2 separate regions of the Homo sapiens genome follow, and region 2 is linked to region 1. The links come from fine-mapping of genetic effects on gene expression. Tissue or cell type: blood mononuclear cells. Region 1 holds a variant in brackets; the other region holds the start of a gene. All regions are shown on one strand. Distances are between the middles of the regions.

What was found. PIP is the estimated chance that this variant, and not a neighbour inherited with it, causes the effect.
Region 2: PCMTD1 starts here. The variant in region 1 is fine-mapped to the expression of PCMTD1 in blood mononuclear cells (TOPMed, PIP 0.99).

Annotation. Positions count from the first base shown.
Region 1 is chr8:51,922,693-51,928,068 of GRCh38, reverse strand. The region is part of intron 2 of PCMTD1-DT (PCMTD1 divergent transcript); the gene reads right to left. Among named protein-coding and RNA genes, the nearest start is that of PCMTD1-DT, 26 kb to the right of the region's middle. RefSeq lists an enhancer at 1,840-3,039. The variant T/C (reference allele first, on the strand shown) is at 2,334.
Region 2 is chr8:51,895,793-51,901,168 of GRCh38, reverse strand. PCMTD1 (protein-L-isoaspartate (D-aspartate) O-methyltransferase domain containing 1) reads left to right here and starts at 2,133. Exons shown (of 6, transcript NM_052937.4): 1 at 2,133-2,239. It overlaps PCMTD1-DT (PCMTD1 divergent transcript), which reads right to left and starts at 1,854. Exons shown (of 4, transcript NR_189279.1): 1 at 1,323-1,854. RefSeq lists enhancers at 1,017-1,076, 1,377-1,436, 1,607-1,896 and a silencer at 1,937-2,626.

The DNA of each region.
Region 1 (5,376 bases):
TATAGCGGTGTGAGAATGGACTAATACAGATGTTCTTTTTGTTTTTACACCTTGTTCTAGCACTTCTGTATGCTTAAGATTTTGTTATATTTTTGTCACAAAGTGAAGTTCCCCCCTTAGTACCCCTAAATAAGAAAGGTAGAGTTGCAATTTAATGCTACTAACAGCTATAAAAGAAAGCAGCAGTTTCCCTTGGCCAGGGCAAAGCAGCCACTACAAAACTTGACCATGGTTTCACTTCACAAACTGATAAATGGCACTCCTTATGTGCCAGGCAGTGACCTGAGTGCTTTACAATCAACGTTGACTTATGGAATCTTCTAGATGAGCCTGTGAGGTAGGTACTATTGTTAGCCTCATGATAAATAAGGAAAGAACATTTTTGTAGTCACTTCTCTGTGAGGTTTGAGGCTCAAGTTCTTGGAACTTTGAAACATCAGCCAACAACAAAACACTACCAACAAAAAGTTTGCTCCAGTAGAAGATGTGAAGCAACTGATGCATAAAATATCTTGTTATTTTTAAATGTTACTCTGGGTGAAAAATAAAAAGACTATTAAAAAACTCTTCTGTCAGTGGTCCCTTGGAGCTCTGAAGTAAATTTAAAACATAATGATTGGAAAGGAGCCTCCTTTCACACTTGGAAAAGAAGTCCCCAAAACTCTGGGTGCTGTCTGAGACCTTGCAACTTCAAATTGCTGGGGGTGGAGCCCAGGACACTAGGGTGGAGGCTGTCACTCCCCACACTACTGGGACTTAGAGACTCAGAGCCAGCTCTTGGTCCTCTCTGCAAAGAATACGTAGGAAGTAGTTTAATTTTCAGTAAAAGAAGAAATGTTTTTCAACGTGGTCACCTGCAGAAACTACAGTCCACCTTTATAGTGGTAAAATATAATTACGGTCTTGAGAATTTCCCTAAAAGATTCTGCATGGGTTGAAATTTGGGCTTCAAATCAGCAAAGGGAGGATGGGACACAGCTTCTGTGAAAGTTCCTCTAAGGAGGATGCAGCTTCAAGTGAGTAACCTGTGATACCTTTTCATTCTGGATGGATAGAAGAGCTTATCTGAAAATAAAACCTAAATTTGTGTGGGAGTTTTTTTTAACTCCTTGCAATACCCGGATGGATGGATGGATGGATGGATGCATGGATGGATTGAGACAGTGTCTCCTTCTGTTGCCCAGGCTGGAGTACAGTGGCACAGTCAAGGCTCACTGTAACCTTGACCTCGCAGGCTATGGGGATTTATTGCGAAGCAAGAAGTAAGTAATCAAGAAAGGGGAGTAGGGAGTGCAACTGTACTCGAGAGAGAGTAGCACCCAATGGGGTTTGAGGCTTCTACTTCTTTAACCAAGGAATATTCACACCGATTCCTGGAAAAAGGTGAAGATTCCTTGGAACTGCGGTACCACCTATTTTTACCCCAAATATAGATGTTCCCAAAACTGTCATGGCACTGGTGGGTAATGGATTTAATGTTTTACTGAGCATATAATGAGGTCCTAGGTAAAACCTAGGTCAAATCCAGCACCATGTTGGGTCCAGTTGGTCTCAGTAAGCTTGGTCCACTCCCTGGTTTTCAGGTTTTCTCATCCCCTAGCTCATGCAGCCATTTCAACAGTTTTCTTTGGCTAGCCATGTGAAACTGCTGCCTAGAATTTTCTCCTGTGACCACCCTGTATTATTTCTGTCTCAACCTGAGGAGCTCTTCTGGTAGTCTTCATGTGGCTAAAGCTTAAGTTACAACTAGCTGGGTGTGATGGCTCATGCCTATAATCCCAGCACTTTGGGAGCCTGAGGCAGAAGGATCACTTGAGCCCAGAAGTTTGAGACCAGCCTGGGCAACATGGTGAGACACTGTCTCTATAAACACACACAAAAAAATTATTTTAAAAAAAGAATGAACTGTTAATGCACAGAATAAATCATGGGCTTTGGAATGAGAATTGGGATTAAATCCAAAATTAGGTGACCTTGAGCAACACCTGTAAGTTTCTATTCTGTTTCCCCAACTATAAATGGAAATACGATTATTCATTCTTTCATTCTGTAGGGACTAATGAAAACTTTCCTTTCAACCTCTGAAGGTTCACTGAAAATAAACTGACAAAGGCAGATTGATAGGAGAAATGGCATACCCATTGATTAGTGTGCAGGGAGCAGGAGAAATCACAGAGTGATTGCTGCATCACGCATAAAGTATACAGATGGTTATATACCTTTCTTCTTAGGGGAAAGGACGATGGAAAAGTGTAGATTATTTTAGGGAGTAGTAAATTAGTTTTAGGGGAATTCGATGGGCTTGAAAAACACTCAGTAACCTGGGACAAACT[T/C]TGTTTGGGCCCACAGGGCAGACAATGGTTTCTTGCTTCCTGTGATATGAGTTTGAAATAGGCCCAACTGTCTCATAGAAATGATATATATGGGTTTTTGAATAACACAGAAATGGACCCTCCATCTTAATATTTAAAACTTATATTTGTCTTAACTGTGTTCCTTCTTCAGGAAACTGACCCTCAGGCAAGGGACTAAAACTCGTCAGATCACCGCATCCAGACAATGAGATGCCAGACCTCGTATCCATCATAATTGCTTCCTTACTCCTCCCTAATTTCTGTTTTCCCTGCCTTCCCCTCTATATAAATGATAGATGCAGGAGGCAGATAAGGGAGGCTACCTGGAGAATCTCCAATCCATCCCACAAGTGTTCATATCAGATGCTTTTGTGCAGAGGGGGAACATGCCCAGGGCCTTGTCTGGACATGCCCACAATGGACTGGGGGCCTGCCTGCACACTGGGAGTATGGGGTGGAGCCACCAGGGATCAGCACCTTATGCAGTAGGGAGGAGCCTGGACTCCTCAGCTTGTATGTGTGGTGCCCTGATATTCAATCTGTGAGGTGGGAGCCTGCTGTCAGGACCCCCTTTTTATTCACTGAGAGCTTTCTTTTAATAAATTCTGCTCTCCTCACCTTTCAATGTTTCCACATGCCTAATTTTTCCTGGTTATGTAACAAGAACCAGGATGTTAGGTGAACTAAGGAGCAAAAAATCCTGCATCATAAACATCCCAATTTTGGTCAGTTGGAGAGACAGATTTGAGACTGACCTCCTGTTCTCCTCCACTGAGCACCCAATAAAGCCTTCTTCCCTGGCAATACTCATTGAGTCAGTGATTGGCATTCTGTACATGGAGCAGCAAGTCCTAGACAGAATCCCTGGTGTTTCAGTAAAAAGTTCAGTTAATGAAAACTCAGGGAAGAAATCAGAGATAATTGTTTTCTTCTTTGGTAGGTCTGGACTTTGGGCAGACAAGGGAACTTCAGAGAACAACTTTAGCCTGTGTTTTGGGAGAGACAGAGGATTGAGAGACTAGAGAGAGGGGAGAGTCAGAGAGACCTTGAGGCTCCTTCAGTTCAGCATATCAAACTACCATATCTTGGAGTATCAGTTTCTAAGCCCTAACATTTTGTTCAACAAATACTTATTTAAGACTTACTTTATTAGGGTAAAAAGCTAAGCTACTGATGACTAAACTCTGATTTTTTTTTTATCTTGCCCAAATTCCTATCTAAGGTGTCTAGGGAGTCATGCCCTACAAACCATAGATTCTCATCAGACAGGTTTTATTTAACCCTATATATTGTGACTTATTTTCCAAACCTGATTCTGGCATAACTGTAAATTAAAGAAAGTGGAAAGAAACATGAAAAGTGGCTCCACAGTCAAAGACATATTTATTTTGGAGAATAAACCTGAGAGGGGCTTCTGGCCGATTTTGGTCAGGAATGCTATCTCTTACAGACTAAGAGAATTTATTGGTTTTAGGGTGAGAGAGCTTATCACAAGCTTGGAATGTTTCCGTGTAGGGGAGAAGTTTATGGTGGGGTTGGAATGTCTCTGCTCAGAGGGGAGGTTATCTCGGGGCTGACATCTTTCCGGCAGGACGGGGGTTATCTTGGGGCTGACATCTCTCCAGCCGGAGGGGAGGTAATCTCGGGGCTGGCATGTCTCTGGTCGGGGACAGGTTTATCTTATGTTTGGAATGTTTCTGGTGATAAATGTCATTTGTGCTTTATGATCATGCTGACCTTAGCCATTAGGCTGACGCCCTTTGGATTTGGGCAGCTTTTGATCAAGCTGAACTTTAAAATGGTGGTGCTCATCCAAGATGGCGATGCTCCTGTTCTGTCAATAACATTATGAGACAAGGGAGAAAATAAAAATATTTTACCGGCAAAACATGTTTTTTGTCACATTTTGAAATAGCTCTGCAAGCCATCCTTTGTGGGGGAAAATTCGTATCTGTAAAGAATCCCTATTAACACAACTAGACATTTTCCTTCCAGGCCCCTCCAATTCTAAATAGATTAACTGAGAGTCTAGCACTCTTTAAAGGGTCTGAATAGGAAACATTTGTCATCTATTGTTTCTAAGGGGAGCCGCCATGAGACTTCAAAAGAACTTTGGTTTCCACAATCTTCTATCTTTGTAAGGTCAGCCAAGAGAAAGGACAAGAGAGAGAGACCCAAGTTCAGGCAAACCTTTATTCAACCTGCCGGCTGCTCCATTACAGACAGAGGAGGCAGCCCTGAGCTTAAAAAATGAGGGGTTTATACGGGGCAGAGAGACCCTGGGGTTGTTTGCTGGTTAATTCTGCCACAAACCGCCTTATGATGTTTATGATACATGGGGGTGTAGGTAAATTTTGCTTATGCTTCCCACGACCTCCCCCGTGTGGTCTGGATGGTTTGTAATTGGGATTTGCTCATCGCAGCAAGGTCTGATAAGTGGTCTGCTGGCTCCACCACGGTGCCTAAATAAGGGCTTAGAAATGTAAAAAGTCTTAGGGGAAGGGGAGGGGTAGCCCGGAGAAGTTTAGAGGGGGGTTGTTGGCAGTACCAAGAAGCACTTTCAGGGTGATTTGTCCCTAACAATCTTAATCTGAATGTTTGCTTTCTATTGATCCCAGGTCCTTAGACAAAAACTCAATCAACTGTCAACCAGAAATGTTTAAATTTACCTATAGCTTGGAAGCTCCGCCCCCTTCAAGTTGACCTGCCTTTCTGGAACAAACCAATGTATTCCTTAAATGTATTTGATTGATAGATTATGCTTCCCTAAAATTTGTAAAACCAACCTGCACCCCAAACACCTTGGGCACATGTTCTCAGGACCTCCTGAGGGCTGTGTCATGGGCCATGGTCACTCATATTTGGCTCAGAATAAATATCTTTAAATATTTTACAGAGTTTGACTTTTCGTTGACACTACCATTACAAAGCGCCTCAACAATACAAAGACTCAAACAAAAAACCTACTTCTTTTCACATTAACAGTTGCAAGCTGTAAGCTATCTTTTTGGTGGGGCAGCTC
Region 2 (5,376 bases), 27 kb after region 1:
TTACAGGTGATAGAGTGCTTTACTTGCTGTTCAACTACTCACCCACAAGACTAGCATTTGGTGTTGTTTATTAAGAAGGTATTTACTAGCAGTCTTATTTAAAAAATGACCTGTGTTTAACTTTCCAGCCGCAGAAGAGAAAAAAGGTCTAGAACCCTGAAAAATTCCCATAGCAGAAGGAAGAAAGTAAAGGAAAATATGCTTTTAAAAAATGGAGAGAAAACAGGGGAAACGGCTGTAAGAGTTGTTTAATGATTTTAGCTATTTTCCTTAGATTACCATTTGTACTTTTTTTGTTTGTTTATGGTAAGATAGTTTTCATGTGCCAAAATTTCTGCTTGGACTAACAGAAAATTCATCCTGTAAGATTGTTATATGATCCCACAACGGTTAGGAGTGCCCTGGGTCCAGGCAGAAATCCAAAGATGGAGCTAATAATGTGACCCGCAGCTCTACTCCAGAATGCAGATGAATAGAGATTTTGAACAGTTCGGAGCTCAATGTCCACTGAATATGCACTCATACTTTAAACCTAAATAAAGTGAAGCCTTTGAGTTAAATGGCAGAGCGCCTCAGCAGCAATTTTGCTCGTTTTCAAGTTCTTATTTCGTGATTTGAAGCTTTTGACCTTGCTAGCATGTTCTTTCTGAACGCTTTTGCAGATGGTTGGTTATGGTGGGGAGTAGTAACCCTAGCATAAAGACGTTCTAATTCTAACTTACCTTAGGTAACCTATAAGGGTAGCTTACGCTCACTCTCATACTTGAAAATCAAAACCGAACAGAATTCACACGATGGAAGCAAATCATGCTACAACCTACTATTAGAGACTGAAGGGAAACGCACAAAGATTAATGAACAACAAAGAACACTTCAAAAAGTACAGTATTTGGAAAAGACATGCCTTTATGTACACTAAAACTAATTTAAAAAATTAAATGCAGTTTGCTAGGAGTCTTACAAGTATTAACAGCATGTTCACTGCTTAGGATCCTTAGTAGCAATATTTTCCCGGCTCGCCTGCCCCTATGCCTCATTTCCTCTTCTTTTTTTTTTTGAGATGGAGTTTCGCTCTTGCCGCCCAGGCCAGGTGCCATCTCAGCACTGCAACCTCCGACTCCCGGGTTCAAGCGATTCTCCTACCTCAGCCTCCCGAGTTGCTGGGACTACAGGCGCACGGCACCACACCCGGCTAATTTTTGTATTTTTAGTAGAGACGGGGTTTCACCATGTAGGCCAGGCTGGTCTCTAAGTCCTGACCTCAGGTGATCCGCCTGTCTCGGCCTCCCAAAGTGCTGGGATGACAGGCGTGAGCCACTCACCCGGCCCTCTTCTCGACTTTCTATCCCTCCTCCTCAACACCCTTTCCTTCTGGAAATGGGCTTTGGGGTGGTTAACCAAGCCCAGGGAAACTTGCGTGGCCCAGCATCTTCCGTCCGCTGCAGGAGGAGCACACGCCCCCGGCCCGGGTCAGCAAGACGCGAGAAAGCGGCCACGCCGGGCGTCCGGGAGCTGAGGCTGGAGGGCGCCTGGCAGGCAGGGCGGGGCCCAGGCGGCGGGAGTGCTTATGACCGGCGCTGGGGGGAACTTCTGGACGTCAAGGGGCCACTATAAAGCGGCACAGTCTTGAGCCTTCGCTCTTCACCTAAGTCAGTGAGCGCCCTTCGCAAAGCCTCTGTGGAGGTAACCATTGGGGGTTCGCCTCCAAATCCAGGAATGCACCTCAAAAATGCTCCTACACCGTAAGACCGTGTCCTTCAATGCAAAGGGGACTGTGCGGCGAGGCACCGACAAGCCGTAGCCCTGAGACCACTGAAAGCCTGCACCCCAGCGCCGGTGCGAGAACGTGGAGATGGCGGTGGGGAGGAGAGGTGGAGGCCATGCTCTCGCGTGATCTCCCCTACCGCCATCGTCTTCTGGCCTGTCAAGGCCTCGCGTTGTTTGGGCTTGGGGGCGGAGCGAGCCCTGAGGGGGGCGGGGCCAGATGGGGGCGTCTCCCGGCCTTGTTGACTTTGGCGTCCGCGGGGAGCTGCCCCTGTGCCCGTGGTTCTCTGCGCATGCCCGGACCCCGGCGGCTCCGGAGTCCGGGAGGCTCTGGCTGCTCCAGTCGCGGGTCCGGGCCCCGCCTCTCCACTCGGCGGTGGCGTCCGTGTTGTTATTGTGGTGGTAGCGGCGTCTGGCTGCTGCGGACCCCGCCGAGTCCTAGCGCCTGGCCTGCGCGCCGCTGCCCGCGCCACAGGTAACGCCGCCGCCAGTGGGGGCTCGGGGTCGTGGGGTGTGCGAGTCCCGCGTGCTAGGGCCGGGCGGGCGACTGGGATGCGCTTGGAGGCCAGAGGGCCAGGGGGACGGCAGCCGAAGAGTCGGGGGCAGGGGGACTTAAGGGCGGGCAGGTCGGGGGCCAGGAAACTGAGGCGCTGCGGGGCAGGTTGGGGGAAGGACGGGCCGGGGGCGGAGGACTTGGGAGGTCGGGGAGTCGAAAGGGGCCCAGCGAAGCCTGGAGGTCGGGAGCCGGGGTCCCTGGGGCCGGGGAGGTCGGGGGCCCGAGGGAGGCCGGGGCGCCGCGTCCTCGGCCCGTCCTCGGCTCGTCCTCGGCTCTGACCTGGGCTTGGGGACCAGAGTCCCGAGGCTGGCGTCTTGAGATGCCCGCGGGCCCCTTAGGGCCGTTTTGGATCCGCCCAGTGACTTCTGTTTTGGTTTTGGAGGCAGAGAATCCAGTCTACGTAGACTCGGGGAAGTCTCGGGGGCTGGGAGGGGACTGAGAGGTTATAGCAGGCGCCAAGGCCTCTTTTTGTGTTTTTGAGCGTCTACTACCGTTCCGGGGAAGTGCAGTGCCCGCGTTTTGCTTGGGGAATTTCAGACACCGGCATGGGGAGGACCCACGGGCAGAACCCGAGGGAGTAATTTTGCAAATCCAAGATTTTTTGGAACTTCTATAATTTTGTTTTCGTGTGTCCTCTTTTTAGAATCGAGAAACCAGAGATATATTTTTAACATTACAAATCAGAAGAATTTGCTACGGAGGAAAAAAGTATGCTTTTAGCAGTGTTTTTCCCCTATTTATTTTTTTAATTACAAAAGTACTGCTTGCTCCTTGAGAAAAACATGAAGCAGCCAAACAATGAGGAAACCTGCCCTCTCTCGCGCCCTTCCCCCCATATTTCTCCTTCTTACTACCCAGGGTAGCCAGTCTCCAAGTGTGGTGGGTAGTTATTCAGGATTTTTTTTTTCTGTGCATTTAATGAGTGTGCTTTAGAAACAAGATTGGGATCATATATAGTACAGTATATCGTTTTATTAGCCAACAATGCATCATGGATATTCCTCCATTTTATTACACACCTCATTATTTTAAAAAACATTATTACTATGTATTAGAGAATCCAATCTACGTAGGCTTGGGGAAGCCTTTTCTTCATTGTTAAACATGGTCGCCAAGTTTTCAATAATCAGTAGCTTTGAAAAGGGCTACAAGCCAATATTTTGAAACAATGTGGCAAAACTTTCAGAATGTCTGCGGCCAGACGACATTACTTTCGTATTAAGCAGATTAATATGTTTACGTATTGCTTAATGGTAGTTTACATGAGGCTAGATGACTCCATAAAACATAAAGTTGCTGAATTAGTTTACTTTTTGGTTTTTTTTATTTCATTTTTTTCTAAGTAAATTTTAATTCCATATGGTCAGTTGAACACTTGTAATTTCTTTAACATGAAGTAGCTAATATGTGAAGGAAAGGTAAGGTAGGAAAGATAGAAAGCTAGTGGCCCTAGCCTGAGACAAGAAAAAAAAAGCAACAGGGATTAAATATTTTGGTAAGTAAGCTATAGGGAGTAAACTGGAAGTGGAGGGGTGATACTACACTGCCTACTATTAAGTAAGACAGAAAGCTAGGAAATTCCCATTGCATACTGTATTTCTGTGTGCAGAAGAGCTGGAGGCTTTGTTGATTTAATCACTAGCTTGTATTTATTAAAAATGTACTGTGTTCATCTTGGTGCTAGCTTCCAGGGAAAGAACAACTGAGGAAGATAATCACGAACAACGTCTGGTTCTAAACATGCATAGCCTGAAATTTTAAGCCAAATTGTGTAGTATTTTATGATTTGGAAACTGTGCTCGAAAGGAATAAAAAAATCCATGACATTTTAGTTATTTTTGGTAATAATATGCTCATATATTTCTCATAACAACATAAATGACATTCTTCTCATTCTATAGAGTAATAAATAGAGGCTTTGAGTAAAAGAACTGCTCAAGATCCCATTGCTTTTTTTTTTTTTTTGTAATAGTGCGTGTTTATATTCAGGAGTGCTTAATCCAAGAACCTGTGTTTTCTGCTCTTGTTTTACCTCCTATGAACGAAAAATTGTTGCCCTTACGGTTTTTTCTGCTTTCTTTGAAATGTTCCTTACAGAATAACTACATGAATGTAATCACATGCATTTAAAATAGTCTAGAGAATATAGTGTGAAACTATAATGGTATTTTTTTAGATGAGGTTTCTGGTGGCATATTACTAAAATTTTAAACTCCTTGATCTTATGCTGTTAACCAAGAAGATGGGGATTTGTGTTACTTTAGACACTGCTGGGTGCCATGGTAAATTGGGATGTTATTGTAAATTGTAGCTCTCACAGCTGCGTATTGCTTACAAACTCGGAAGGATAGTCTCATATCAGTAAACATTTTTATGAACGTAGTTGAACTTTTTTGTAAATTAGTGTGCTGGAAAGAATACCAAGAGGGCCCTAAAAAAGTCTAAAAGGATTAAAATTTACTTATGTAATTATTGGTATTTTAAAATATTTGGTAGTCACTTAAAATGCATAATGACAGACAATAGGGTGTCATAATATGGTTTATTAATCTTTTTTCATTTTCCACTAGATGTGGCAACTACATAGTTGGAAGAAATGTGGCGGCCGGGGGCAGTGGCTCACGCCTGTAATCCTAGCACTTTGGGAGGCTGAGGCAGGTGGATCGCCTGAGGTCAGGAGTTCGAGTCCAGCCTGGCCAACATGGCAAAACCCCGTCTCTACTAAAAATACAAAAATTAGCCGAGCTTGGTGGTGGGCATCTGTAATCCCAGCTACTCGGGAGGCTGAGGCAGGAGAGTCGCTTGAACCTGCGAGTCAGAGGTTGCAGTGAGCCAAGATCGCTCCACTTCACTCCAGCCTGGTCAAAAGAGTGAGACTCTGTCTCAAAAAAAAAAAAAAAAAAAAAAAAAGAAATGGGACAAATACTAACATTAATAAAGTATGGTCAGTTGTAATCTGTATTTGAGAAGAAACCAAAAATACAGGAAAAGCTTTGACATTTTACTGGCAATTGTTAAGGATGATAATTGGATTCATACCTAAATGGCGTATCTGC